Homo sapiens: one gene and its partners. The protein of the gene in region 1 purifies or fractionates together with the protein of each later gene. This does not show direct contact. Each region holds a gene or a part of one and is shown in the gene's direction. Other genes may lie near its edges. The genes, in order: CELA3A, RAB18, NFXL1, TARS2, TIMP3, CNTNAP3 and PIK3C2A.

Region 1 (4,027 bases):
TGCCCAGGCTTGCCTCGAACTTCTGAGCTCCAGTGATCCTCCTGTCTTGACCTCCCACAGTGCTGGGATTATAGGCGTAAGCCACCATGCTTGGCCTGCTTGCCACATTTCAAATGTTCAATAGTCACATGTGGCTAGTGGCTACCATATTGGACAGCAAAGATATAGAACATTCCCATGATTATGGGAAGTTTTATCGGAGAGGGTCAGCAGGCTTATTCTGTAAATGGCCAGAGAGTGAATATTTTAGGTTATTTGATGGTTTGGATAGTAATGACTTGACTGTGCCATGGTAGCATGAAAGCAGACACAAACAATACAGAAATGAATGTGACTATTTCCAGGACATCTTTATTACAAAAACAGACCAGAAGCCTGATGTGCCCCACTGTCCACAGTTTGCTAACCCTGGTCTAGATGGAGCTTTTGAAAATCAGAATGTGTAGGAAATGGGAAGAGAGGCAAAGAACTCATCAGGGTGAGCTGTGCTTCAGAAGGCTCAAGAGGCCTTGAAAGAGCTGAGGTTCAAAAGAGTCAGGGGGGCTGGGCGCGGTGGCTCACGCCTGTAATCCCAGCACTTCGGGAGGCCGAGGTGGGCAGATCACCTGAGGTGAGGAGCTCGAGACCAGCCTGGCCAACATGGTGAAACTCCGTGTCTACTAAAAATACAAAATTAGCCAGGCACGACGGCAGGTGCCTGTAATCCCGGTTACTGTGGAGGCTGAGACAGGAGAATCGCTTGAACCCGGGAGGCGGAGGTTGAAATGAGCTGAGATTGCCACCATTGCACTCCAGCCTGGGGAACAAGAGCAAAACTCCATCTCAAAAAAAAAAAAAACTCACAGGGCGAGGGGTGCGTGATAGAACAGAGGGCCTTCAAGGGCTGTTAAGAGACAGAAGGTAGAGAATGTTGGGGTCCCCAGGGAGGTCATAGTGCTGGTGTGGGGAGGCTTTGGAGAATCAGAATGTGACCCCCATGGAAAAGTGATAGGGCCACCACGGGCAGCTGCCCAGGTCGCAGGTTGTATGCTGCATATTTCAGTGGGTGCTCTCGTTTTCCATGTGAATGGCGCCCTCTAGAGTTGCACAGTGCACAACCTATACAGCCATTGGTGGCAACTCTCATGGTGGGGCCCAGCCCACTGAGGCCCTTTCCTCCTGGGCCACCAGGTTTCCCTGCAGTATGAGAAAAGTGGAAGCTTCTACCACACGTGTGGCGGTAGCCTCATCGCCCCCGATTGGGTTGTGACTGCCGGCCACTGCATCTCGTGAGTTCTCTACCCTGTCCCTGCCTGTGGCCCTGGGCAGCGGGGGAGAGTGGGTGATGATGGGGAAGGAGGGAGGTGAGCCAGTCAGGCCCCGACTGACCTCACCTCTGCCTGCAGGAGGGATCTGACCTACCAGGTGGTGTTGGGTGAGTACAACCTTGCTGTGAAGGAGGGCCCCGAGCAGGTGATCCCCATCAACTCTGAGGAGCTGTTTGTGCATCCACTCTGGAACCGCTCGTGTGTGGCCTGTGGGTGAGTGAATGCTCCGGTCTGGAACCCAGGGGCTCCTCTACTTGTCCCTCCATGACCCACAGCCAAGTCTGAGTAGGCTCCAACTCTGAGTAGGGACGTAGGGACATAGGGACATAGGGACAGGGGAGCTGAGTCCAGCAGCCTGTGCCCAGGTCCCACACACTGAGGATTGAAGCCAGCAGAGCCTTTAAGGACCATCACCACCAAACCTGTCTCCCTACAGAGGGGATGGCAGTGTTCAGGGAGGGGCAGGAACTCTGCCAAGGCCACTTGGCTAGTGGCTTCAGAGCTCAGGGTTCCTCTGGCATCCTTCCCCCATATCCGAGGGTTTCTCCATTCAATAGATGGCTCACCCAGTGCATCCTGGGCTCCCAGCACTATGGGCAAAAGGAGGAGCACTGGGCTGAGAGTCAGGCTCTGGCATTAACTCTGTGTATGGCCTGAGCAAGTCACTGGCCTTCTCTGGGCCTTAGTTTTGCCATTTGTCAAAAGGTGACCATGAAGTTGGGCTTCCTGGGTGGTGTGAAGGCCAAGGAGACAATCTTATGCCTTTCAAGTGTATGAAAAAATCTTAACAAATATTAGCCAGGCGTGGTGGCATGAGCCTGTAATCCCAGCTACTGGAAAGGCTGAGGCAGGAGAATCACTTGAACTCGGGAGGCGGAGGCTGCAGTGAGCCAAGATCATGCCACTGCACTCCAGCCTGGGCAACAGAGCGAGACTCTGACTCAAAAATAAATAAATGAATAAATAAAATTCCTCAGCCTTAAGAACGATTTGGGCCAGGTATAGTGGCTCATGCCTGTAATTCCAGCACTTCAGGAGGTGAAAGCAGGAGGATCCCTTGGCCCAGGAGGCTGCAGTGAGCTATGATTGTGACACTGCACTCCAGCCTGGGCAACAGACCGAGACTCTGTCTCAATAATAATAATAATAATAATAATAATGATGATGAAAGAGTGGATTTGGAGGGTAAAGAAGTTGGGGCATCTCAGAGGTGGAATAGCCTGGAGCAACGGCTAGAAGGTAGGACTTGGGCCGGCTGGAGGACCAGGCCCCGTGACTGTTCCCTCCTCCCCAGCAATGACATCGCCCTCATCAAGCTCTCACGCAGCGCCCAGCTGGGAGATGCCGTCCAGCTCGCCTCACTCCCTCCCGCTGGTGACATCCTTCCCAACAAGACACCCTGCTACATCACCGGCTGGGGCCGTCTCTATAGTACGTGCTGACTTCTCTAGCTGGCCACAGAGACAGTGGCAGAAAGACAGGGCCTGGGGGCTGCAGGTTGAAGGTAACACCAAGACCGGACCTTGTACTTTTCTCCCATTTCTCTCCAGCTGCAGCCTTCTTCCATCAACCTCCAAAACACGAATGTGGTCAATTGCACATGTTTTGGTATCTTCTGTGTGCCACGTGCTAGGGATGTAATGGTGCACAAAGCATGCAGGACCATTTAGCGGGTGGGAGGAGAGTCCTCATCAGGGCAGAAGAACTGTGGGCCTTGAATGCCCCCTTCCTCTGGGGCACCTAGCGGTGTGCCCCCAGACCCCTGACTCGGTGCTTTTTATCCTTGCAGCCAATGGGCCACTCCCAGACAAGCTGCAGCAGGCCCGGCTGCCCGTGGTGGACTATAAGCACTGCTCCAGGTGGAACTGGTGGGGTTCCACCGTGAAGAAAACCATGGTGTGTGCTGGAGGGTACATCCGCTCCGGCTGCAACGTGAGTCAGCTCTTACCTGCCCGAGGTGGTGCTGGGTGTGCAGGACCTTGGAATGGGGCCAACTGCCTGGAAGGTGGAGGAAGGATCTTGCCTGCTTGCCCCATTCAGCCTCCAGGCCAGGCAGGACTTGGAGGAAATCAGCGCAGTCCAGACACAGAGCCCAGGCCTGGGAGTCAGGACCCCCGGGTTGCAGTCTCAGCTCACACACTGACATGACTTGGGACAAGTCACTGTGTCTCCCTGGTCCTCAGGCTTCCGCATCAGCACAGCAGGAGATACTGGTCCCATGACCTCTAACGCAGGTCAATTCTGTGGTTCTAAAGTTATAATTAACCATTAAGAATACCATCATTGTTCTGGGCACAGTCCCTCCTGCCTATAATCCAAGTGCTTTGGGAGGCTGAGGTGGGAGGATTGCTTGAGGCTAGGAGTTTGAGACCAGCCTAGGTAATATAGTGAGATGCCCATCTACAGAAAAACTTTTTTTACTTAGTCAGGCATGGTGGCACTCGCCTGTAGTCCCAACTACTTGATAGGCTGAGGTGGGAGGATTGTTTGAGCCTGGGAGTTCAAGCTCACAGTGGCTATGATTTTTGCCACTGCACCCAAGCCTGGCGACACAGCAAGACGTTGTCTCTTTTTTTTTTTTTTTTGAGACAGGATCTTGCTCTGTTGCCCAGGCTGGAGTGCAGTAATGCCATCATAGCCCACTGTAGCCTTGCCCTCCTGGGCTCAAGCAACCCTCCAATGTCAGCCTCCCAAGCAGCCAGGAGTACAAGTGTGTGCCA
Region 2 (4,027 bases), on another chromosome or scaffold:
GAGAGAGAATGACTGGAGTGGGGACTGCTTAGGGAAAGTTCTTAGAGGCTGTCCCATTTGAGCAGAAATCCCTCAGGTGAGGATCTAGAGCAAGCTTGTCCAACTCATGGGCTGCATGTGGCCCAGGATGGCTTTGAATGTGGCCCAACACAAATTTGTAAACTTCCTTAAAACATTATGAGATTTTGTGCTTTTTTTTAAGTTCCAGCTATCATTAGTGTTATTGTATGTTATTTGTGGCCCAAGACTATTCTTCTTCTTCTAATGTGGCCCAGGGAAACCAAAACACTGGACACCCCTAGTCTAGAGGGAGATCATCTCAGGCTGAGAGAGGAGCAAATATTTCCTGAGGTGGGAATCAGGCTACTGTGTTAAAGGAACAGGAAGAAAGCGTGTGTACTGGAGCATAGAGTGTGTTAAGGAGAAGGCAGATGGTGAGAGATGCCATTCAAATGGTAAAGAGATGGATTGTATTCCAATTGTGGTGGAAAGTAGGGAAGCAGCGGTGTGACCTGATACTCTAAAAAGATCCTGTTGTGTAGAAAATGGACTAGGGGAAACAGAAGCAAGAGACTAGTTCTTCTCTTGCAGTGGCCCAGATGAAGGAAGAAGCGGTTTGACTGTGTAGCCGTAGAGGGTGGTAGAAAATTGGCAGTTCTAGGAGATACAGTGAAGGTATAGCTGACAGGATTTGTGGGTGGATTGGGTATGGAGGATAATTAAAAAGAGCAATCAGGCGGGTGCAGTGGCTCACGCCTGTAATCTCAGCACTTTGGGAGGCCGAGGCAGGCGGATTACGAGGTCAGGAGATCGAGACCATGGCTAACACGGTGAAACCCCGTCTCTACTAAAAATACAAAAAATTCACCGGGCGTGGTGGCGGGTGCCTGTAGTCCCAGCTACTTGGGAGGCTGAGGCAGGAGAATTGCTTGAACCTGGGAGGCGGAGCTTGCAGTGAGCGAGATCACGCCACTGCACTCCAGCCTGGGCGACAGAGCGAGACTCTGTCTCAAAAAAAAAAAAAGAGAGCAATCAGAGATAACTCCATGTTTTAGGCATGAGCAGTGAGGTAGATTGTGCTGCCAATAATTAGGATGTGAAAGATTGAGATAAGAGCAGGTTTAGGGTAGGGAAGTGAGGAATCAAGAATTTCACTTTGACATAAGAATGAGACATTTTTCCGATAACCGGTGGACATGGTGGTCATTGGCATTTAGGTGGCATTCAAGGTCATGTGATTAGAGTGGTGACTTCAGGAAAGAACGTGGATAGAAAAGGGCTGAAGAAGCCTGGGCAACATAGTGAGACCTCATCTCCAAATAAAATCAGCTGTGTATAGTGGCATGTGCCTGTGATTCCAGCTGTTCTGGAGGCTGAGGTGGGAGGATCACTTGAGCCTGGGAGGCCAGGGCTGCAGTGGAGCTCCCACTGCACTCCAGCCTAGGTGACAGAGTGAGACCCTGTCTCAAAAACAAAACAAAACAAAGAAAATGGCAGAAGATTGAACCCTGGGGGATTCCAGCAATTAGAGGTCAGCAGAAAGAGGAAGTGCCAGCAAACAAGGCTGCACATGACATGTCAGTGGGCTCAGAGGATTTTCAGGCATGTTCAGTGTCCTGGAAGTCAAGGGAACAACTTGTTTAAAAGAAGAGGAAGTGATTAGCAGTATCAGATACCAAAGATGTCAAATAAAATTAGGATATTGGATTTGACAAGATAAAGGGTGTTGGTGGTCTTGGAAAAGAATGATTTCAGTGGAGTGGTGGGAATGAAAGCCTAATTAGAGTAGTTTGAAGAAAGAACGTGAGATAAGAAGGTAGAAACAGCTTATGTGGATAACTCTTTAGAAGAGGTTTCAAAGAGAGTGGAGAAATGGGTGGCTACAAGAAGGGCATGTGGCCTAGAGAGCAAGTTTGTTTTTTAATAGGATGGAAAATAATTCGGCAGACTTTTAGGCTGATTGGTATGATCCAGTAGAGAGAGCGTTTGGTCCTTCGGTGAATGAGAAGGGATGGGACTCCAGGAACAAAAGAAGGCGATGGCTTGGATAGCAGCAGGGACAGTTTATCCATTCTCACAGGAGGGAAAGCAGAGCATGAGGATACATATGCAGGTAGCTTGGTAAATTTATTAGTGGGATGATCAGGCAGTTCTTGCCAGATTGCTTCTGATTTTCTCAGCATAATGCAGCTAGATTATTAGCTGCGATAGAGTTTTGAGAGGAAGGAATAAAGTACTCATCTCAGACGGTGAGAAAGATCATCACTAAGGAAACGCAGGGTTGGAAGCAGTGCTGAGTGTCCAGTTGAGTTTCATGAGCAAACATTTGCTGTGGGACCAGTTTTCATGGTGGTTTGTCATTTTGTCCAGCTGCCTGGAGCTGCTTGGTTGAAGGCACAGAATAATCAGATTAATTGTTTAACTTGTATGAATTTCTTTATTTTAAAATAGGAATAATATCTGCCTTGGGAGCAAGTTGTAAGAGTTAACTGAAAGCTTAAGGAAAAAACTTTCGCTCGCTATTTAAGTAGGGCTTTACAAGTTACAATTCTATCACAGTTTTAAGATTATAAACCAGTGTTTTTTTGGTATAAAATTATATACTAGTATTCTTATGGATAGAATTTAATTAGCTCAATTTTGAGATTTGGAAATTCACTAGTTATTGACCTTTGGGGAAAAATTGCTGATTTGGATCTTAATATATTGTAGGCTGATATTTATGCCCTGATAGTTTCCCAGAAAAACATGAGAATATGGCCAGAAAGGAATATACTATGAATGACCTTTTTCCTTGAATTTCAGAGGCAAGTGCAAAAACCTGTGATGGTGTACAATGTGCCTTTGAAGAACTTGTTGAAAAGATCATTCAGACCCCTGGACTGTGGGAAAGTGAGAACCAGAATAAAGGAGTCAAACTGTCACACAGGGAAGAAGGCCAAGGAGGAGGAGCCTGTGGTGGTTATTGCTCTGTGTTATAAACTCTGGGAAATTCCATCTCTTGCATATTTGATCAGATAGTGACATCTTTCTGTATATAAACTCTTTAACTGCTATTTTAGGGACCTTGCAGTTTGCACATAATTGTTTTATATCATAGCAGTAAATATTTGCAAGAAATCCCACTCATCGACCCCGGGTAAAATGTTATGGTAAGCATGCACAGTTTGCAGTCTACAGTTTTTTTATGTAGCACAAAATAGGTGTACCTTTATAAGTACATTCAATTTTATGATTTACATTTATCATGTAATTTTTAAAAAAATCCATCTATCTAGGATATGTTGATACAAAGTCTGCTTTTGCTATTCTTTTTGCTTAAATACTCCTATCATTTTCTGAATTACTTGGTATTTAGAACTCCTAGCACCACGGGGAAGAATAGAGGTATCATCAAACGTGGCAAATTTTCTTTCAGGAATAATAAAGAGCATGATTCCACAGCTTTTCTGGGATGTTTGAGATTCTTTTTTAGTACTAAGCAAAATTCTCATCACAGAATGTAGCCCAGGCCAATTTATAACTAAATCTCTATTTGTTCGGATGATGCTTCTAAAACAGCATTGATAGGTTAAAGAAGCTTGGTATTTTTAATTTACTTCAATGATTAGCTCAGTTGCTTAACTGGAGTTTTAATCCTGTGATATGTACATTGGATTCATGACTGTGCAGCATTTTTAGTTATGTGGTGTTTGGCAGAATGACAATAAGGTTTTCCCCCATTTTGGTTTCAGGAGGACATGAATAGTGTGTTTATTGTAACTCCTCATACACTTTTAAAACCAACATCTTTTTTCATAAATGTTGGTAGTGTTTGTCCAGGTACCTTAACTGTAGCTTGTGTAATGTTGATGAATATCTGTATCTTACGGCTTCCATAATGGCTAGTTGATATTCAAAAACCTATTTCTGTGTTTTGAGGGGTGGGGAAAAAAAACACTAAGTGATAATTTGAAAAAGGCATATTGCTTCCAGATTCTGATGTGTGAGGGAAAATACTGTCACAATGAAAATCTTGACAATTTAC
Region 3 (4,027 bases), on another chromosome or scaffold:
TTGATTTTTAAAAATTTTATGGTATTCTCTTTTTTAAGTTAAGAGAAAATAAGCAAGTAATCACTATTTGAAGCAGATATTTAATGCTTGCAACTATATCATCATTAAATATTAAGACATCAAATAATACTTATAACCTTAAGCTATCAGATGAACTTTGCTTTTTTATGGCAGACAGGTCTTTGAGGGAAAAATCATTTAAAATTTGAAAATCGGGTTGTTTGTAGGAATTGCAGTGCAACAAAGTACGTGAAAATCAGGTTTCAATAGAATGTGACACAACGTGCAAGGAAATGAAGCGGAAAGCATCTGAGGTAATGTCTCGTTAAATATCATTTTAAAGACTAGTGGCCTTTCCCTTCTTATTTTGTGCATTTATGTACTTATTAAAAACAACTTGAAATCTCATTTTTTTGCTTTTATAATAAAAGCCTAGTTTTATAGGCTTATTTTGAATGGCAGATTGGGATTTTCATTGCCTAGTGTATATGAAGGCTTTTCATCTTCTATGCCCGTTATAAGATTTTGAGATTCTTTGCTGCTTGGGTTATCTCTAGTGTTACTCTTCCCCTCCATCAACCCAATCAGTGACCTCTTGATTTTGTTTGAAAGTAAGGATTCCCTTCCATGATAGCACATTTAAGATAAATTTAACTCTAGAGAAACAGCAGTATTTAATAATTAATTCTAGATTCTTAATACAGCAACTCAAGAGGAAAAAAGGCAGTTTTAAAATTTGCTGTTACAGTGTTTTAACTCTTTGAATTACGATGTAATACCGATTTTACTTGTTAAGCTGAGATGCTCATATAAGGTATAACACTCCATCCATGACCACCTTCAATTTATTAGATAGTGCCTTGGTAAAACCTTGTCTCAGTATAGCATTTACATTTCTTTAAATGATTTCAAGCTCCTAAAAGTTGATATGGGTTAATAGAACCTGGATGGGTAGATGTTAAAATTCCATATAAAATGTGATGACTAAATTGTAAATTGACTTTTGTATGTGTATAAACAGATAAAAGAAGCAGAAGCCAAAGCTGCTCTTGAAGAAGAAAAACGAAGACAACAGGTAACCAAACAAAATACCCAGATTTATGTCTCTTAGCATCATTGCTAGATTTTGTGCAAACACGGGGTATATTCCAAGGTCAAACTAAGGTCTAGTCTCTATTGTGAACTGAAAATAACAGTTCTTGTAAAACAAAAATGAGCCATCTACTAACTTGACTTTAAGTATACTGAAACTCTGAAAAGGTATGAGATCTCATATATTCCCAAATTTTTTTTTTGTATTTCCAATTTACTTTCTTGCCAATATCATCCATACTTCAGCCAGAAGAATTTTAATTCCTCCTTTGGCTGGGGAGTGAGAGTGAGCGAATCATCACCATTGTAAGGCATCTTCTGGAGACCATGACTTTACTTAACTAAAAGTATTTGAGTTCTATTTTACTGAGTTGCAGACCACCTATAACAAATAAGTGCAGTTTACTAATCAGTACATTTGTTTTAATAATATATTCCCATATTTCCCTATTAGATCTTTAAATGCGGGATTATAACCTGTTCTTTGTTGTTACCTAGAGAACAAGTACATTCCTGATACTCCCTGTTTAAGTATTTACTTTATTGATCATACACTTGAAAGAGTGGCTTGACTTTCTAATAGTGATGTATAACTTTTTATTATTATTTGTCAGTTTGTATCTTGAAATGCTTTATACTTATCAGATTGTATTGTGTGCTAAGCTACTGCCTTTATGAATGATGAGATTGAAACTTGCGTGATTTGCATGAATAAGGAAATTCAAACTTTGATGAGTTGTAGGAACAATTAGAACAATTAGGAACATTAGAAACAATTCATGTAGTAAATAATGGTTGGCCAAGGTGACCTTTGAGATTTTATGGTTCTGTAAAGTTGATTTGCCTGATATCCCCAAAATAAGTTATCAGAGCTAAATAGTAAAACATAAGTTGGCTGGAATCCTAGGAGATTAAGTTATTAAGAATAGTTTAGTATGTTTTCTCCTTATTCCCTTTGCTATCTTTTTATAAATCATCATGGATGAAAATCTTAGATACATTCCCTGTTTACTGACTCTTTAAACAGAATATAATCAGTCCTTAGTATATGTAGGTTCTGCATCTGTGAATTCAACCAACCACAGATCGAAAATTTGTTTCAAAACAAGTAAAAAAAAAAAAAAATAAATAATACGCATTTTAAAATACAGTGTAACACCTATTTACATAGCATTTACATTGTTATTAGGTGTTATAGGAAATCTAGAGTGATTTAAAGTATACAAGAAGATGTTTGTGTGTTATTTGCAAATCCTCCACTATTTATGTAGAGACTTGATCATCCTCAGGTTTTTATATCCAAGGGGATCCTAGAACCAATTTCCTACAGATACTGAGGGATCACTGTATACAGCACATAATATATACTTGGTGACTGTGAGTCACCATTTAACTGTCAGTTATTTTACTGTGTCTGTAGTCCTCAAGTTTGCCTGCTTTTAAGATATTTTGACGTTTTTTATATGTCAGAAACTAACCACTTGGGAGTAGTCTGACATTTTGGCTCATTGAAGAATGCCACTTTGTATTAAACTAAGTTTATTATTAGATCTTTTTCAAGTGTGGTTTATGACCACAGTAATGGATATGTGAACTAAAGTTTACATTTCCTCCTATTAAATAACCATTTACAAAGTTTTAGGTGGATATTATTAAATACATATATATTTTAACTATTGTCTTAATTACCTATGCACTATAGCATATTATATTACATTATTATGTGTAAAAGTTTAATAAGTACTTAGCAGTAGGATAAAAATCCCCATTTGATATTGAATGCAATTCAGTTATCGTCTTTTAGTACTAGTTTAAAATTTTTATGTCTAAAATAGTCATTTTGATTTTAAAGCATGAAGAATTTTTTCCTTTGAAGAATTTTTACTATTTTTAAAAAATGTATTTGGTAGAGAAGAATCGAGTTCTGGCAGCTTTTTTCTCTTTACTCACTTGAATTTCTTTCTTAAAAGCCACTAATGTTTATTGCATGCATTGTAAACAACTAGAATTATAGGTATCTTCATTCTCACTAGGCATCACAGCACTTGCTAGAAGCTTTATAGAATGCTGGTTCTATAATAATTGGGTTGAAGTATAATGGTGTCAATGTATAAGACCAGTGTCTATATTTTAGAGCATCCTGATTTAATAAGACGTTTTATTTTATTTATTTATTTATTTATTTTTTTGAGATGGAGTCTCTCTCTGTTGCCCAGGCTGGAGTACAGTGGCGCCATCTCGGCTCACTGCAAGCTCTGCCTCCCTGGTTCACGCCATTCTCCTGCCTTAGCCTCCCGAGTAGCTGGGACTACAGGCACCCGCCACCATGCCCGGCTAATTTTTTGTATTTTTAGTATAGATGGGGTTTCACCATGTTAGCCAGGATGGTCTTGATTTCCTCACCTTGTGACCCGCCTGCCTCAGCCTCCCAAAGTGCTGGGATTACAGGCGTGAGCCACCGTGCCCGGCCTAATCAGACATTTTAATATTTAGTATCATAGTCAGCCCTACAGTTTGAAATATTCTCTTCTGTTATCTCCCAGTCTCCTTTCTGCTTACCTAAACCCTGAATTTGTTGAATACAATCAGTAGTGGAGAGTAGTGTTTTAAAAAATCAAATCAATATATTGACTATATATCATTACTATTAAAACATTACCCAAATTGATTTTTATGTAAATGGAAACTTTCAAATCAATGTATGCATTGAATTTAATTAAAATGATGCTGTTTTTATTTAGGCTGAACTAGAAGCTTTTGAAAACAGACTGAAGGGTCGTCGGAAGAAGAACAGGAAAAGAGATGAAGTGGCAGTTGAGCTATCACTATGGCAAAAACATAAATATTATCTCATTTCAGTGTGTGGAGTTGTGGTTGTAGTGTTTGCCTGGTACATCACCCATGATGTCAATTAAAAAAAGTTTTGATCTTTTAA
Region 4 (4,027 bases), about 130 Mb from region 1:
TTGAAAGTGCTGGTGACCTTTAATACTACAATTGTGTGGTCTGCAGTCGGGGAGCATAGAGATGGGACCTGGTATTTAATAGGTTGTGGTTGCAATCAGCATGGCCTGAGGGCCCAGGAAGATCACACAGCTGACACCCTACCTGCTTTCCTTCCAGTTACTCTGACCTTCCATGTCTGTACCCTCCTCTCCAGGCTGAGTATGCCCATCGTGGTTTCTCCGAGGTGAAAACTCCCACACTGTTTTCTACGAAGCTCTGGGAACAGTCAGGGCACTGGGAGCATTATCAGGAAGACATGTTTGCCGTGCAGCCCCCAGGCTCTGACAGGCCTCCCAGCTCCCAGAGTGACGATTCTACCAGGCATATCACAGATACACTCGCCCTCAAGCCTATGAACTGCCCTGCACACTGGTAAGCTGGGAGCTAGGGTTACAATCAGGTTGCTAAATATTAAATAATAGAAAGCACCTTGGGGCCGGGCACGGTGGCTCACGCCTGTAATCCCAACACTTTGGGAGGCCGAGGCGGGCGGATCACCTGAGGTCGGGAGTTTGAGACCAGCCTGACCAACATGGAGAAACCCTGTCTCTACTAAAAATACAAAAAATTAGCCGGGCACGGTGGCGGGCGCCTGTAGTCCCAGCTACTCAGGAGGCTGAGGCAGGCTAATGGCGTGAACCCAGGAGGTGGAGCTTGCAGTGAGCCGAGATCGCGCCACTGCACTCCAGCCTGGGTGACACAGCGAGACTCCATCTCAAAAAAAAAAAAAAAAAGAAAGCACCTTGGAAAGAGTATTGGGACACCGATTTGAGCCTACAGTCTTCCCCCTAGCTAACCATGTAAATTTGGGAAACTCATTTTACCTCTTTAGGTCTCAGTCTCCTTAAAGTTGCTATCTAAGGCTCCTCCTTCAGCTCAGTGACCATCACAGAACAGGGAAATGGTAAACGATGTCTGTTATTGTGTTACTGAGAAATCCACTTTTGAACCTCAGGGCTCAGACTGTGATGAGTGGGATTGACAGGACTCAGTGGGAGGATGTGCTGAGGCTGGAGAGGGTTATAGCAGATGGTGCAGAGAAAGTAGGCAAGCAGATTGGGTGGAGGAGCAGTCTTCGGGGGCTAGTCCTCCCTATGGCCCTGACCCCTCTGCACCCCAACCTCAGCCTGATGTTCGCCCACCGGCCCAGATCCTGGCGGGAACTGCCCCTGCGACTAGCTGACTTTGGGGCTCTACACCGGGCCGAAGCCTCTGGTGGTCTGGGGGGACTGACCCGACTGCGGTGCTTCCAGCAGGATGACGCTCACATCTTCTGTACAACAGATCAGGTGGCCTTTCCCTGGCTCCACCAAAGCTTTTCTAAACCACCTTTCTTTCTCCCTATGAACCTGCAAACCCCTGATCTTTATTTGCCCCCTGTATGTACTATAATTCAGCTACATTCTACCCCCAGCTTGCTTCCGCTTCCTCTCTGTTTTTGCCCTTTGTTTTCCTCAAACTGCCAGCATCCCTGATCTCTAGCGGGCTCACAGCTCACTGACCCTTATTTCCTGCCCCTAGCTGGAAGCAGAGATCCAAAGCTGTCTTGATTTCCTCCGTTCCGTCTATGCCGTTCTTGGCTTCTCCTTCCGCCTGGCACTGTCCACCCGGCCATCTGGCTTCCTGGGGGACCCTTGCCTTTGGGACCAGGCCGAACAGGTGAGTAGGAGGTAGAGAAATAGAGGCAGATAAACCACTCTCTGGTGGGAAGGAGTGGAGAATACAGTAATCAAGGTTCTCAGAGGCATCTGGTGAGTGGGTCATTTGTTGGGGACTGACCGGATGTGTTGCTTTTGAAGTCTAAGATGATGTATTCCACTCTTGTCTCATTCCTTCAAAGGTCCTTAAACAGGCCCTGAAGGAATTTGGAGAACCCTGGGACCTCAACTCTGGAGATGGTGCCTTCTATGGACCTAAGGTAAGCTTGGGACCCTGGTTAGTGTTGTATTTATTTATTTTTTGCTTTGTTTTAGTAAATATTTAATAGATACAAAGAATTTTTTTTTTTGAGACAGTCTCACTCTGTCACCCAGGCTAAAATGCAGTGGTGTGATCTCAGCTCACTGCAACCTCCAGCTCCCTGGTTCAAGCAATTCCCCTGCCTCAGCCTCCCGAGTAGCTGGGATTACAGGTGTACGCCACCACACCCGGCTAATTTTTTTGTATTTTTAATAGAGATGGGGTTTCGCCATGTTGGCCAGACTGGTCTCGAACTCCTGACCTCAGGCAATCCACCCCACTTGGCCTCCCAAAGTGCTGGGATTACAGGCGTGAGCCACCGCACCCGGCCACAAAGAAATATTTTTAAACTTACGTAGGATATAAAGAAAAACAATATACTTTCTGCCCTCTTGGCATCTGCAATCTAGTGAGGGCTGCTGAAGGTAAATAGGCCATATCAGTGCTGCGAGATCTGTGCTGTGTAGGTACCAAGAGAGCACGTTAGCTGGGGTTAGCATTACTCGGGGAGGTTACAAAAGGTGTCCTGCAGGAATCACTTTCCAATCTGAAAGGTGAGTGTTGGCCAAGTAAAGATGTGTTTCAGGAGGGAACAGTGTAGGCAGAGGCTGGGGATAAGGATGAAAACACATGGCAGACCAATCTGGGCAACACAGGGAGACCCTGTGTCTACCAAAAAAAAAAAAAAAAATTAGCCGGGTGCAGTAGCTTGTGCCTGTGGTCCCAGCTACCCAGCAGGCTGAGATGGGAGGATCACCTGGTCCCAGGAGGTAGAGGCTGCAGTGAGCCGAGATTGCGCCCCACTGCACTCCAGCCTGGGTGATAGAGTGAGACCCTGTCTCAAAAAAAAAGAAGCCAAGGGGAAAAAAGGACTGAAAAGTGTCCACTGGATTTAGTAAAAAGGCTGCTGGATTTCAAAGGACCATTTTCAGTAAAGTAGGGCCTGAGGGTGGAGTTAGAAGATGAATAAATGAGGCCTGTGTGGTGGCTCACGCCTGTAATCCCAGCACTTTGGGAGGCCGACGTGGGTGGATCACTTGAGGTCAGGAGTTCGAGACCAGCCTGGCCAACGTGGCGAAACCCCATCTCTACTAAAAATATAAAAATTGGCCGGGTGAGGTGTTAGGACACACCTGTAGTCCCAACTACTCAGTAGCCTGAGGCAGGAGAATCGCTGAACCTGGGAAGTTGCAGTGAGCCAAGATCACACCACTGCACCCTAGCCTGGGCAACAGAGCAAGACTCCGTCCCAAAAAGTAAAAATAAAACAGGCTGGGGGCGGTGGCTCACGCCTATAATCCCAGCACTTTGGGAGGCTGAGGCAGGTGGATCACCTGAGGTCAGGGGTTTGAGACCCTGTCTCTACTAAAAATACAAAAATTAGCCCAGCGTGGTGACAGGCACCTGTAAACCCAGGAGGCGGAGGTTGCAGTGAGCCGAGGTCGCACCACTGCACTCCAGCCTGGGCGACAGAGTGAGGCTCCATCTCAGAAAAATAATAATAAAATGAAAAATAAAATAAATGCTATGATGAGAGGAAGTCTATTTGGAGGGAGAAGTTGTTGTAAAGGGAAGTTCCTGGAGAGGTTTAAGGTAGGATTGAGAAGCCTTCATAGAAGGGATCACCATTGCCATTGTATCCAGGGTGGAAGGAAAGGCTGAAGGTAGATGCAAGGAAGTTTGTAGGCATGGTAACAGGAAGTTGAGGCTCTTCCCATCCCATGGTATCAATTATCTGAATTCTTCATGAGGCAGGATCATTTGCTGAAATGAGAGTGGAGAAGAGGAGAGTTGTCAGTGAGGGGGCTGAAGATATGAAGAAAAGGCTGTGTGCAGTGGCCCCCTCTTGTAATCCCAGCACTTAGGGAGGCTGAGCTGAGATGATCACTTGAATCCAGGAGTTTGATACCAGCCTGGGCAACATAGTAACAGGGCATCATAATAAGACCTCGTCTCTACAAAAAAAAATTTTTTTTTTTTTTTTTTTTTTTTTTTTTTATTGAGACTATGTCTCGCTCTGCTGCCCAG
Region 5 (4,027 bases), on another chromosome or scaffold:
TCCTCTACTAGCTACTTTGAGATATACAATAAGTTATTGTTTACTGTAGTCATTCTACTGATTCAATGAACACTGGGTCTTACTTGTTCTGCGTACTCGTATTTTTGTACCCATTAATTATATCTCTTTGCCCCAATCCTTATTACCTTTCTTGCCTCTGGTAACCACCAATCCACTGTCCATCTTTATGAGATTTACTTTCTTAGCTCCCACATGAGTGAGAACATGGTGTATTTGTCTTTCTGTGCCTGGCTTATTCCGCTTAGCAAAACGACCTCCAGTTCCAGCTGCATTGCCACAAATGACAAGATTTCATTCTTTTTTCTGGATGAATCATATTCCATTGGGTATAGATACCAGGTTTTGTCTATCCATTCATCTGTTGATGGGCACTTAGGTTGATTTCATATCTTGGCTATTGTGAATATTGCTGCAGTCAACATGAGAGTGCAGACCCCTCTTCCATATTCCGATTTCCTTTCCTTTGGATACATACCCAGCAGTGGGATTAGGGATCATACGGGTGTCCAAACTGGGAAAGAAGAAGTCATGATGTTCCTTTTGCCCACAGATGTACCGAGGCTTCACCAAGATGCCCCATGTGCAGTACATCCATACGGAAGCTTCCGAGAGTCTCTGTGGCCTTAAGCTGGAGGTCAACAAGTACCAGTACCTGCTGACAGGTAATGGCCAACTCTAGCTTCTAGGCCAGGGTTTGGCCAAGGTCCACTGTTTCTTGACTTCAGAAGAACACATACGGAGTAGTTGACTCACCAAATGTCCAGTAAATTGTAAGGAGTCTCTAATGTTGAATTCATCCCACTTACCCAGTGCTAGGAGCTTGAGGCTCCTACACTTAGGCTGGACTTTGGAATTAGCTCCACCACTCACCTGGGGGAGGAAATCTCCTAATTTGTAGCTTCTCAACTTTACTGTAAATAAAAAGGGAGTATCTGTTCCTCTCCACCTCACACTCGACCTGTTAGGCCCGTCTTTGAAAGTTATTCATCTTTAGGCAGTCAGTGTAGTAAAGGAGAAAACAAAAACAAAAATCATTATAAAGGGAGTGAAGAGTTGGCCTCTAGTCCTAGCTCCAGTATTTAATGGGCTTGGGACCTTTGGCAAATCACTTTACCTCTCCAAGCCTCATTATCCTCATCTGGAAAATGGGGCTACAGTCCATTTTAAAAGGTGTTGGGTAGGGTGAAATAAAATCATGGGTCTGAAAAGTACCCAGCCACAGTGCCTGGGCTAAGTGGGAACATAGTAGGTGTGAATTCTCTCTGGGCTAGGCTCTGGACAAAACAACCTCTCCTTGTTTTCTTCTTTCCTCCTGTAGGTCGCGTCTATGATGGCAAGATGTACACGGGGCTGTGCAACTTCGTGGAGAGGTGGGACCAGCTCACCCTCTCCCAGCGCAAGGGGCTGAACTATCGGTATCACCTGGGTTGTAACTGCAAGGTAAGCTCTGGGGTCACTGGGGGAAGGAGGGGAGGTGCTGACTTGCAGCCCTAGAAACATCAGCTCCCAATGCACTGGGTGCCAGGCCCTCGGCTGGGAAGGGTATGCATGTGTTAGGCCAGGGCAGAGGGGCAGGTCTGAGCAGATATAGTAAGGATTGTTGCCCCAGGTGGGGCAGTGAGGAAGGCAGGGAAGGAAGAATGCCTTTCTGCTGTAATCGGCTGCCTCCATGATGACCACTTGGAAGCTGCTGGGGCATGAGGGCTCTTGAGTCCCTGGCCCCACCTGGCAGTTCAAGGCTGGAGGTATAGGATCCTGACACTGGCAGGTTCTCCCAAGTGGTTTCAAGTGGGCTCACCCTGGTAGCTGACTCATCGCTAACCCCACCCCAGGTAGGCAAATGGGCCCAGGACTGCAGAGACCAGATGCTACAGAAGGTCTCTCTTTACCAGGCCCATCCCCCTGACCCAAGTATAGGGCCAAGGTGCAGCCTGCCTGCTGTGGGAGGAAGTTGGGCCATTCTCTCACTTCATCTTCAAAACAGTCCTGTGTGGTTTTAATTACTATGATCTCCATTCTGCAGATGAGAGCTCAGAGAACTTAAGTAACTAGCCCTAGGTCCCACAGTTCACTGAATCTGGTTTCCAACCTAGGGCAGCTAGACTCCAAAGTTTATGCTCTAACCTTTCTAATTCCTCGATTCCCTAAAACAACTGAGATCTCCCACCTGAGACGAAAAAGTCCTCTCAGTAGTCTAATTCTGCTACTTACTGGCTGTGTGACCTGCAGCAAGTTACTTAACCTCTCAGAGCCTCCTAAAACTGTGATAAGAATTAAAGAGAATAATATCAAAGCACTTATCAGAATGTCTGTTAGACAGCAGATGCTCAAGCTAGTGCTATTTATATTATGATCACTGAGGGACTGATGTGGCTAGGCTTCCCATGCAGTGGCCCCAGGGTCTGAATCCAGGCTCGGTAGCCTCAGGCCTGGGCATACCATGGCAGAGTCCATCAACTGCTGCCTGTTATCTAATTGCAGATCAAGTCCTGCTACTACCTGCCTTGCTTTGTGACTTCCAAGAACGAGTGTCTCTGGACCGACATGCTCTCCAATTTCGGTTACCCTGGCTACCAGTCCAAACACTACGCCTGCATCCGGCAGAAGGGCGGCTACTGCAGCTGGTACCGAGGATGGGCCCCCCCGGATAAAAGCATCATCAATGCCACAGACCCCTGAGCGCCAGACCCTGCCCCACCTCACTTCCCTCCCTTCCCGCTGAGCTTCCCTTGGACACTAACTCTTCCCAGATGATGACAATGAAATTAGTGCCTGTTTTCTTGCAAATTTAGCACTTGGAACATTTAAAGAAAGGTCTATGCTGTCATATGGGGTTTATTGGGAACTATCCTCCTGGCCCCACCCTGCCCCTTCTTTTTGGTTTTGACATCATTCATTTCCACCTGGGAATTTCTGGTGCCATGCCAGAAAGAATGAGGAACCTGTATTCCTCTTCTTCGTGATAATATAATCTCTATTTTTTTAGGAAAACAAAAATGAAAAACTACTCCATTTGAGGATTGTAATTCCCACCCCTCTTGCTTCTTCCCCACCTCACCATCTCCCAGACCCTCTTCCCTTTGCCCTTCTCCTCCAATACATAAAGGACACAGACAAGGAACTTGCTGAAAGGCCAACCATTTCAGGATCAGTCAAAGGCAGCAAGCAGATAGACTCAAGGTGTGTGAAAGATGTTATACACCAGGAGCTGCCACTGCATGTCCCAACCAGACTGTGTCTGTCTGTGTCTGCATGTAAGAGTGAGGGAGGGAAGGAAGGAACTACAAGAGAGTCGGAGATGATGCAGCACACACACAATTCCCCAGCCCAGTGATGCTTGTGTTGACCAGATGTTCCTGAGTCTGGAGCAAGCACCCAGGCCAGAATAACAGAGCTTTCTTAGTTGGTGAAGACTTAAACATCTGCCTGAGGTCAGGAGGCAATTTGCCTGCCTTGTACAAAAGCTCAGGTGAAAGACTGAGATGAATGTCTTTCCTCTCCCTGCCTCCCACCAGACTTCCTCCTGGAAAACGCTTTGGTAGATTTGGCCAGGAGCTTTCTTTTATGTAAATTGGATAAATACACACACCATACACTATCCACAGATATAGCCAAGTAGATTTGGGTAGAGGATACTATTTCCAGAATAGTGTTTAGCTCACCTAGGGGGATATGTTTGTATACACATTTGCATATACCCACATGGGGACATAAGCTAATTTTTTTACAGGACACAGAATTCTGTTCAATGCTGTTAAATATGCCAATAGTTTAATCTCTTCTATTTTGTTGTCGTTGCTTGTTTGAAGAAAATCATGACATTCCAAGTTGACATTTTTTTTTCATTTTAATTAAAATTTGAAATTCTGAACACCGTCAGCACCCTCTCTTCCCTATCATGGGTCATCTGACCCCTGTCCGTCTCCTTGTCCCTGCTTCATGTTTGGGGGCCTTTCTTTAACTGCCTTCCTGGCTTAGCTCAGATGGCAGATGAGAGTGTAGTCAA
Region 6 (4,027 bases), on another chromosome or scaffold:
ACACAAATACAAAGAGAACAGTATTTTAAGCAAAGCTTCTGTTGTGGCAGATAACCTTTTAAGGTGTCTCCCAGTTGGGTTTCTATTTTAGATGACTTTTTGAAGAATATATCTCTGTAATAGAAATATGTTTGATGATTCTCATCTTTAAGAACTTCACATTTGCTATAATTAAGATATTTATGAATTTATTGTAAGAAGATTGGTAGAAAAAGTAATGCAACATCAAATGGGAAAATAAATATATAATATTATATAGCTGTTCAAATATAGGGTTTATGATTCTTGAGCTAATTTGAACTGCTGTACAACACCAGGAGAAAAGTCCACAGCTGTGTTAAGAAAGCTCTTATAAGCTTATGAAATTTTATAGCACAGGCTGTCACAGAACCTACAATTTACAAACATTTGTAAAAGTTAGGAAAGTTTTGGGTTCCTCAATAGAAAATGATGTTGCTTAGCTTTAAGAAAGTAACTAATTTATCTCTTTTTATTCTTGTCCACTAACAAAGGAACCCAAATGGTCTTTTAAAATTATAATAAAACTAAGCTAGTAAAATATCACATAGATTTTGAGATACTGTGAATAACCATAGAAAATAACAATTTGTTGTTCTTCATGTATAAAAATAAGCTTAACATGCTTATCAATACATCTTGAACCATAAGAGATTTATTTCAGCAGTGTTGCCAAAGGGCAAGCAATGCCTGCTGCCCGTAGAAAACTTTGAATTCCCTAAGCTCAGGGCTCCTCACTTGTCATGTAACCCACTGCGTGTGCACACATCCATCTGTGCCCATCCATATTCCCCCAGAGGACTTGGAGGCAAGGAAATTGATGCAAATATGCTGATGCTCATATTGTTTGCTATGCTGTAAGTAATACAGTCCTTTGCTTTGACCCAGGAGTCTTCTGCCGCAACGATGAAACAAACTGGCAGACTCATTTGTTAGCTTGCAAGTAGGGTAAAATCTCTCCTCACGGTTCTTCACAGTGTACTTGTCTGTGCAATGGTCATCTTCTTCATGAATATAATTATAACATGATATAAGAAATAGTGAGCTCTTACCTATAGATAAGCAAACATTGCAATATAAAAATAGCATATGTTATTTCATAAATCACAGTTGACACATTCTAGAGAAGAGATTGGGCAGCCTTTTTTGGATGTCACAGTTGATTCTACTGTCCTCATTTCTTCTTCTCTTTTCTGGGATATGAGGAAGAATTGCTGTGACAAAGCTCATCTCCTGGGTGGCCAGGGTTGATTGTCAATTTGTTTTGTTCTTGGAAGGCTAGGCAGATGTCCTCTACCTCCTTCTTTATGCCATGTGACGTTCATCCCTTTGATTTTCCTGTTGCATTTTATTTAGTATTTTAGAATACTGCCCACATTCCATTCTGGAAAGTCCACTCTCCCAGCCAGAGTTTTCTTAGACAGCTGAGCCTGTGATGGGCGTTTGTGCAGGTAGCCTCTTTTAGAAAGTGAGCTCATAAAAGAGGGAAGAATGGAATAGAGAAGAAAAATCCACCAAAAGGGGGTGTCATTGAGCTGGTCACTTCTGTGAGCAACTGGGGCATGAACTCCCTGGGAAGCTCTCAGGAAGCCGGTAGAATGTGTTTCACAGCTGTGCCTCTGAGAGACAGCAGGGGGAATGCATTTATCCCAAGTCCTGTCCAGGGATTCAGCACTGCCCTTGGGGCGCTAACTCCTGGCTCTAAGGAGAGGAATATGAATGAATGGGTTGCGACTGGGTTTCTGCAGGCATCACAGAGGCCAAGAGACAGAGAACTCGAACACTGAACTTTTTAATTTTTTATTATTTTATTATTATTATACTTTAAGTTATAGGGTACATGTGCACAACGTGCAGGTTTGTTACATATGTATACATGTGCCATGTTGGTGTGCTGCACCCATTAACTAGTCATTTAGCATTAGGTATATCTCCTAATGCTATCCCTCCCCCGTACCCCCACCCCACGACAGTCCCCGTTGTGTAATGTTCCCCTTCCTGTGTCCATGTGTTCTCATTGTTCAGTTCCCACCTATGAGTGAGAACATGTGGTGTTTGGTTTTTTGTCCTTGCGATAGTTTGCTGAGAATGATGGTTTCCAGCTTCATCCATGTCCCTACAAAGGACATGAACTCATCATTTTTTATGGCTGCATAGTATTCCATGGTGTATATGTGCCACATTTTCTTAATCCAGTCTATCATTGATTGACATTTGGGTTGGTTCCAAGTCTTGTTATTGTGAATAGTGCTGCAATAAACATACGTGTGCATGTGTCTTTATAGCAGCATGATTTATAATCCTTTGGGTATATACCCAGTAATGGGATGGCTGGGTCAAATGGTATTTCTAGTTCTAGATCCCTGAGGAATTGCCACACCGACTTCCACAATGGTTGTACTAGTTTACAGTCCCACCAACAGTGTAAAAGTGTTCCTATTTCTCCACATCCTCTCCAGCACCTGTTGTTTCCTGACTTTTTAATGATTGTCATTCTAACTGGTGTGAGATGGTATCTCATTGTGGTTTTTGATTTGCATTTGATTGCCAGTGGTGATGAGCATTTTTTCATGTGTTTTTTGGCTGCATGGATGTCTTCTTTTGAGAAGTGTCTGTTCATATCCTTTGCCCACTTTTTGATGGGATTGTTGGTTTTTTTCTTGTAAATTTGTTTGAGTTCATTGTAGATTCTGGATATTAGCCCTTTGTCAGATGAGTAGGTTGCAAAAATTTCCTCCCATTCTGTAGGTTGCCTGTTCACTCTGATTGTAGTTTCTTTTGCTCTGTAGAAGCTCTTTAGTTTAATTAGATCCCATTTGTCAATTTTGGCTTTAGTTGCCATTGCTTTTGGTGTTTTAGACATGAAGTCCTTGCCCATGACTGTGTCCTGAATGGTATTGCCTAGGTTTTCTTCTAGGGTTTTTATGGTTTTAGGTCTAACATTTAAGTCTTTAATCCATCTTGAATTAATTTTTGTATAAGGTGTAAGGAAGGGATCCAGTTTCAGCTTTCTACTTATGGCTAGCCAGTTTTCCCAGCACCGTTTATTAAATAGGGAATCCTTTCCCCAATGCTTATTTTTGTCAGGTTTCTCAAAGATCAGATAGTTGTAGATATGCGGCATTATTTCTGAGGGCTCTGTTCTGTTCTGTTCTATATCTCTGTTTTGGTACCAGTACCATGCTGTTTTGGTTACTGTAGCCTTGTAGTATAGTTTGAAGTCAGGTAGTGTGATGCCTCCAGGTTTGTTCTTTTGGCTTAGGATTGACTTGGCAATGCGGGCTCTTTTTTGGTTCCAAATGAACTTTAAAGTAGTTTTTTCCAATTCTGTGAATAAAGTCATTGGTAGCTTGATGGGGATGGCATTGAATCTATAAATTACCTTGGGCAGTATGGCCATTTTCATGATACTGATTCTTCCTACCCATGAGCATGGAATGTTCTTTCGTTTGTTTGTATCCTCTTTTATTTCCTTGAGCAGTGGTTTGTAGTTCTCCTTGAAGAGGTCCTTCACATCCCTTGTAAGTTGGATTCCTAGGTATTTTATCCTCTTTGAAGCAATTGTGAATGGGAGTTCACTCATGATTTGGCTCTCTGTTTGTCTGCTATTGGTGTATAAGAATGCTTGTGATTTTTGCACATTGATTTTGTATCAAATCAAGATACAAAATCTTGAATTTGAGATTTTGCTGAAGTTGCTTATCAGGTTAAGGAGATTTTGGGCTGAGACGATGGGGTTTTCTAGATATACAATCATGTCATCTGCAAACAGGGACAATTTGACTTCCTCTTTTCCTAATTGAATGCCCTTTATTTCCTTCTCCTGCCTGATTGCCCTGGCCAGGACTTCCAACACTATGTTGAATAGGAGTGATGAGAGAGGGCATCCTGTCTTGTGCCAGTTTTCAAAGGGAATGCTTCCAGTTTTTGTCCATTCAGTATGATATTGGCTGTGGGTTTGTCATAGATAGCTCTTATTATTTTGAGATAGGTGCCATCAATACCTAAT
Region 7 (3,983 bases), on another chromosome or scaffold:
TGGGAGGCTGAGGCAGGAGAATGGCGTGAACCCAGAAGGTGGAGCTTGCAGTGAGCTGAGATGGCACCACTGCACTCCAGCCTGGGCAACAGAGCGAGACTCCGTCTCAAAAAAATAAATAACAAGCAAACATCATCGAGACTGTCAATCAAAATCTTAGTTTTGTATCTGATACCCTTTGGGAGTCTTCAGTTTTAATGTAGCTCAATGACCAGTAGATTTCCTGTGTCGAGTTTTTTCATATTTTCTTCAGACTAGATTTCAAAAGTGAGGATGAGGTGAAGTGGGTATTAGAGTTTGTTTCCGTGTACAGTTTCATTTTTCCACTGCCACCAAAATAAGTGGAATTAAGATTATCCTTTCAGCACCTTACTTAGGCCTTATGTTATTATTTGTGGATTTTACTGGTATATGTAATATTTATGGCTGATTGAGTAGTGATTTTATTTTTTAGGGATCAGATCTGGATAAAATATTTATGAGTGATTAAACTTGAGAAGAAATATTAGAAAATAAGTATTAAGTAGGTACAAAAGTAATTGCGTTTTTTGCCATTACTTTTAATGTCAAAAACCACAGTTACTTTTGCACCAAGCTAATAATAAATATAGGAAATCAACACATACACCTTTTCAACCAAGGCTCATAAAAGGATAATGGGTGACTGAACGATGTCATCTCCAATACTTTGAAGAGAAATCACAAAAAATTACTTATTTTATTTTGAGACGGAGACTTGCTCTGTCACCCAGGCTGGAGTGTAAGTGATCTCGGCTCACTGCAACTTCCGCTTCCCAGGTTCAAGTGATTTTTCTGCCTCAGCCTTCCGAGTAGCTGGGATTATAGGTATCTGATTATAGGCATCAGCACGCTAATTTTTGTATTTTTAGTAGAGACAGGGTTTTATCATGTTGGCCAACCTGGTTTCAAACTCCTGACCTCAAGTGATCCACCCGCCTTGGCCTCCCAAAGGCCATGAGCCACCGTGCCCGGCCACAAAATATTACTTTATAATGGATTAAGACTACTTTGTCTTTAAGTATATATGAAAAAGTGTATTTCTAAGGAAATATTGTACTTATTTAAATCCCACTTGTTTTTGTTTTTCTTTTGTAGCTTTCCTAATAGGATGGTTCTAGGAAGAACACACATAAAAGATGTAGCAGCCAAAAGGAAAATTGAGTTAAACAGTTACTTACAGAGTTTGATGAATGCTTCAACGGATGTAGCAGAGGTAACCTTACTAAATGAGAAGTAATAACATCTTATACCTTTTGTGTTACATAATATTTAAACTAATGAATTGCTTTCTCTTTATTCTTAGTGTGATCTTGTTTGTACTTTCTTCCACCCTTTACTTCGTGATGAGAAAGCTGAAGGGATAGCTAGGTCTGCAGGTGAGATTATTTTTTTTCTCTTTATTGGTAACTCATGATCTGCAAGTCTGTAACTTCTCGATGAATGTGGTAGAATGACAGCAGGCTTACTAGCTGTAGTCTGAGAATGGGAGGAGAGTATTCTTTCTAAGCCAGTCTATTTCTGAATAAATATAACTTTCCTAATAGATGTGATTACTAAAGAAGTATAAATCAATGACCTATCAGGTTGTTTACTCCTTTTTCCCCTCCCTTCTGTCCGCACCACATGTGACAGTCTTGAAAATAAAGCAAAATCCTTTTATTGCAGCTTGAACCACTACAACCAGTAAATAAAGATGAAAATATTTGTATTTTCAGATGCAGGTTCCTTCAGTCCTACTCCAGGCCAAATAGGAGGAGCTGTGAAATTATCCATCTCTTACCGAAATGGTACTCTTTTCATCATGGTGATGCATATCAAAGATCTTGTGAGTGATTACAAAGAATGATGGTTGTAGAGGAAACCCTTACCTTGGTAGGAAGCATTACTATTAAGGGACTGCTTTTCTTTTTAGGTTACTGAAGATGGAGCTGACCCAAATCCATATGTCAAAACATACCTACTTCCAGATAACCACAAAACATCCAAACGTAAAACCAAAATTTCACGAAAAACGAGGAATCCGACATTCAATGAAATGGTAAGTTAAAATCATTTCTAGAAGTTTCCTTGGTTTATTATTTTTTTAATTTTCATTTTTAAGTTCTGACGTGCGTAAGCAGGATGTGCAAGTTTGTTACATAGCTAAACGTACCATTGTGGTCTGCATACCTATCAACCTATCACCTAGGTATTAAGCCCAGCATGCATTAGCTATTTTTCCTAATGCTCTCCCTCCCACCATCCCATCCCCCAACAGGCCCCAGTGTGTGTTGTCCCCTTCTCTGTGTCCATTGTTTTGAGATTTTAAATTTTAAAACATTTTAAGGCCAGGCGCAGTGGCTCATGCCTGTAATCCTAGCAATTTGGGAGGCCGAGGTGGATACATCCCTTGAGCTCAGGAGTTTGAGACCAGCCTGGGCAACATGATGAAATTCCATCTCTACAAAAAAAAAAAAAGAAAAAAATTAGCTAGGCATGGTGGCACGCACCTGTAATCCCAGCTCCTCGGGAGGCTGAGGTCAAAGGATTGCTTGAGCCCAGGAGGTCAAGGCCACAGTGAGTCATGATCATGCCACTGCACTCCAGACTGGGCAACAGAGTGAGAGACCCTGTCCCAAAAAAAAAAAAATTTTAAGTTTTTAGGTATCAGTTGCTGAACTATTTGTTATACAGTGTACACCAATAACAGTCCAATAGTATTTAACAAAATGATATAAAATAGAGCCCTCATAGACCTTAGGAGCCATAATTCAACTACGTTTCCAGTGTGTGAACCCCCCTCTATAATAGTCACAAAAAGTGGTTGTCTAGTCTGTGCTTAATTACTTCCAGACTATTCAGTTTGTCTTAGATCACTCCACCTCTTAGATGATTATTATTATTATATTATTTTATTTATTTTTAGAGGCAGAGTTTCGCTGTTGTTACCCAGGCTAGAGTGCAATAGAGCCATGTTGGCTCACTGCAACCTCCGCCTCCTGAGTTCAAGTGATTCTCCTGCCTCAGCCTCCTGAGTAGCTGGGATTACAGGCATGTGCCACCACGCCTGGCTGATTTTGTATTTTTAGTAGAGACAGGTTTCTCCATGTTGGTCAGGCTAGTTGTAAACTCCCAACCTCAGGTGATCTACCCGCCTCAGCCTCCCAAAGTGCTGGGATTACAGGCGTGAGCCACCATGCCTGGCCTCTAGTTTTTATTTTTTAGCTAATGATTAGTCTTGCTTTGTATCTCTCTATGTCAGACATCACAGGAATGATAGTACAATCCAAGACTCCTGAAACACAAAATGTCCTTCTAAAGTATTCAGACAAAACCTACCGGATGTGTCATAATCAGTGTCACTCATTGTGGTCACTCTTTGGCTAATATTCTCACGTTTTCACTTGAAATGTTCCAAGAAACCAAACAAACTTTAATTTGTGATTTACTGTTCTTTTTTCCTTTGTTGTAGCTTGTATACAGTGGATATAGCAAAGAAACCCTAAGACAGCGAGAACTTCAACTAAGTGTACTCAGTGCAGAATCTCTGCGGGAGAATTTTTTCTTGGGTGGAGTAACCCTGCCTTTGAAAGATTTCAACTTGAGCAAAGAGACGGTTAAATGGTATCAGCTGACTGCGGCAACATACTTGTAAACTAGTGAATGTTTGAGCTTTGGAAGCATGAACAGTTATAAACGTGCATGCATACATGCACACACACACAGACACACACACACACACTTGTTAATTTTGTATAGTATTTTTATACTTGGACAGAACTTATAAAGTTAAATATACTTGCTGCATTTCAACACATCTGTTGGACCAACAGTCACATAACTAACCTTTTTGAATTTTTGGAAGCCATTGCTGTTTTAAAGTCATTATGTAGAATGCTACAAACCCTAAACTTAATATATACTAATTCCTGAAAAAGACTTTGAGACAGTACTATGTCAGTTCAGCCACCTATTTTGCATTG

What was found.
Region 2: the proteins of CELA3A (region 1) and RAB18 purify together in Homo sapiens (co-immunoprecipitation; one large-scale study listed by IntAct). This does not show direct contact.
Region 3: the proteins of CELA3A (region 1) and NFXL1 purify together in Homo sapiens (affinity purification with mass spectrometry; one large-scale study listed by BioGRID and IntAct). This does not show direct contact.
Region 4: the proteins of CELA3A (region 1) and TARS2 purify together in Homo sapiens (co-immunoprecipitation; one large-scale study listed by IntAct). This does not show direct contact.
Region 5: the proteins of CELA3A (region 1) and TIMP3 purify together in Homo sapiens (co-immunoprecipitation; one large-scale study listed by IntAct). This does not show direct contact.
Region 6: the proteins of CELA3A (region 1) and CNTNAP3 purify together in Homo sapiens (affinity purification with mass spectrometry; one large-scale study listed by BioGRID and IntAct). This does not show direct contact.
Region 7: the proteins of CELA3A (region 1) and PIK3C2A purify together in Homo sapiens (co-immunoprecipitation; one large-scale study listed by IntAct). This does not show direct contact.

What each region holds. Positions count from the first base shown.
Region 1 is NC_000001.11:22,004,277-22,008,303, forward strand, and holds part of CELA3A (chymotrypsin-like elastase family member 3A preproprotein), read left to right. Parts: intron 1-1,170; coding exon 1,171-1,268; intron 1,269-1,385; coding exon 1,386-1,520; intron 1,521-2,601; coding exon 2,602-2,738; intron 2,739-3,096; coding exon 3,097-3,239; intron 3,240-4,027. UniProt on the Homo sapiens protein: Efficient protease with alanine specificity but only little elastolytic activity.
Region 2 is NC_000010.11:27,535,071-27,539,097, forward strand, and holds part of RAB18 (ras-related protein Rab-18), read left to right. Parts: intron 1-2,805; coding exon 2,806-2,981; coding exon of another isoform or gene 2,982-3,021; 3' UTR 3,022-4,027. UniProt on the Homo sapiens protein: The small GTPases Rab are key regulators of intracellular membrane trafficking, from the formation of transport vesicles to their fusion with membranes.
Region 3 is NC_000004.12:47,848,143-47,852,169, reverse strand, and holds part of NFXL1 (NF-X1-type zinc finger protein NFXL1), read left to right. Parts: intron 1-227; coding exon 228-314; intron 315-1,021; coding exon 1,022-1,075; intron 1,076-3,833; coding exon 3,834-4,007; 3' UTR 4,008-4,027.
Region 4 is NC_000001.11:150,497,336-150,501,362, forward strand, and holds part of TARS2 (threonine--tRNA ligase, mitochondrial), read left to right. Parts: intron 1-194; coding exon 195-412; intron 413-1,166; coding exon 1,167-1,329; intron 1,330-1,561; coding exon 1,562-1,699; intron 1,700-1,880; coding exon 1,881-1,958; intron 1,959-4,027. UniProt on the Homo sapiens protein: Catalyzes the attachment of threonine to tRNA(Thr) in a two-step reaction: threonine is first activated by ATP to form Thr-AMP and then transferred to the acceptor end of tRNA(Thr). Also edits incorrectly charged tRNA(Thr) via its editing domain.
Region 5 is NC_000022.11:32,856,678-32,860,704, forward strand, and holds part of TIMP3 (metalloproteinase inhibitor 3 precursor), read left to right. Parts: intron 1-571; coding exon 572-683; intron 684-1,339; coding exon 1,340-1,461; intron 1,462-2,502; coding exon 2,503-2,700; 3' UTR 2,701-4,027.
Region 6 is NC_000009.12:39,277,752-39,281,778, reverse strand, and holds part of CNTNAP3 (contactin-associated protein-like 3 isoform 1 precursor), read left to right. Parts: intron 1-4,027.
Region 7 is NC_000011.10:17,089,410-17,093,392, reverse strand, and holds part of PIK3C2A (phosphatidylinositol 4-phosphate 3-kinase C2 domain-containing subunit alpha), read left to right. Parts: intron 1-1,116; coding exon 1,117-1,234; intron 1,235-1,324; coding exon 1,325-1,397; intron 1,398-1,736; coding exon 1,737-1,846; intron 1,847-1,933; coding exon 1,934-2,059; intron 2,060-3,472; coding exon 3,473-3,655; 3' UTR 3,656-3,983.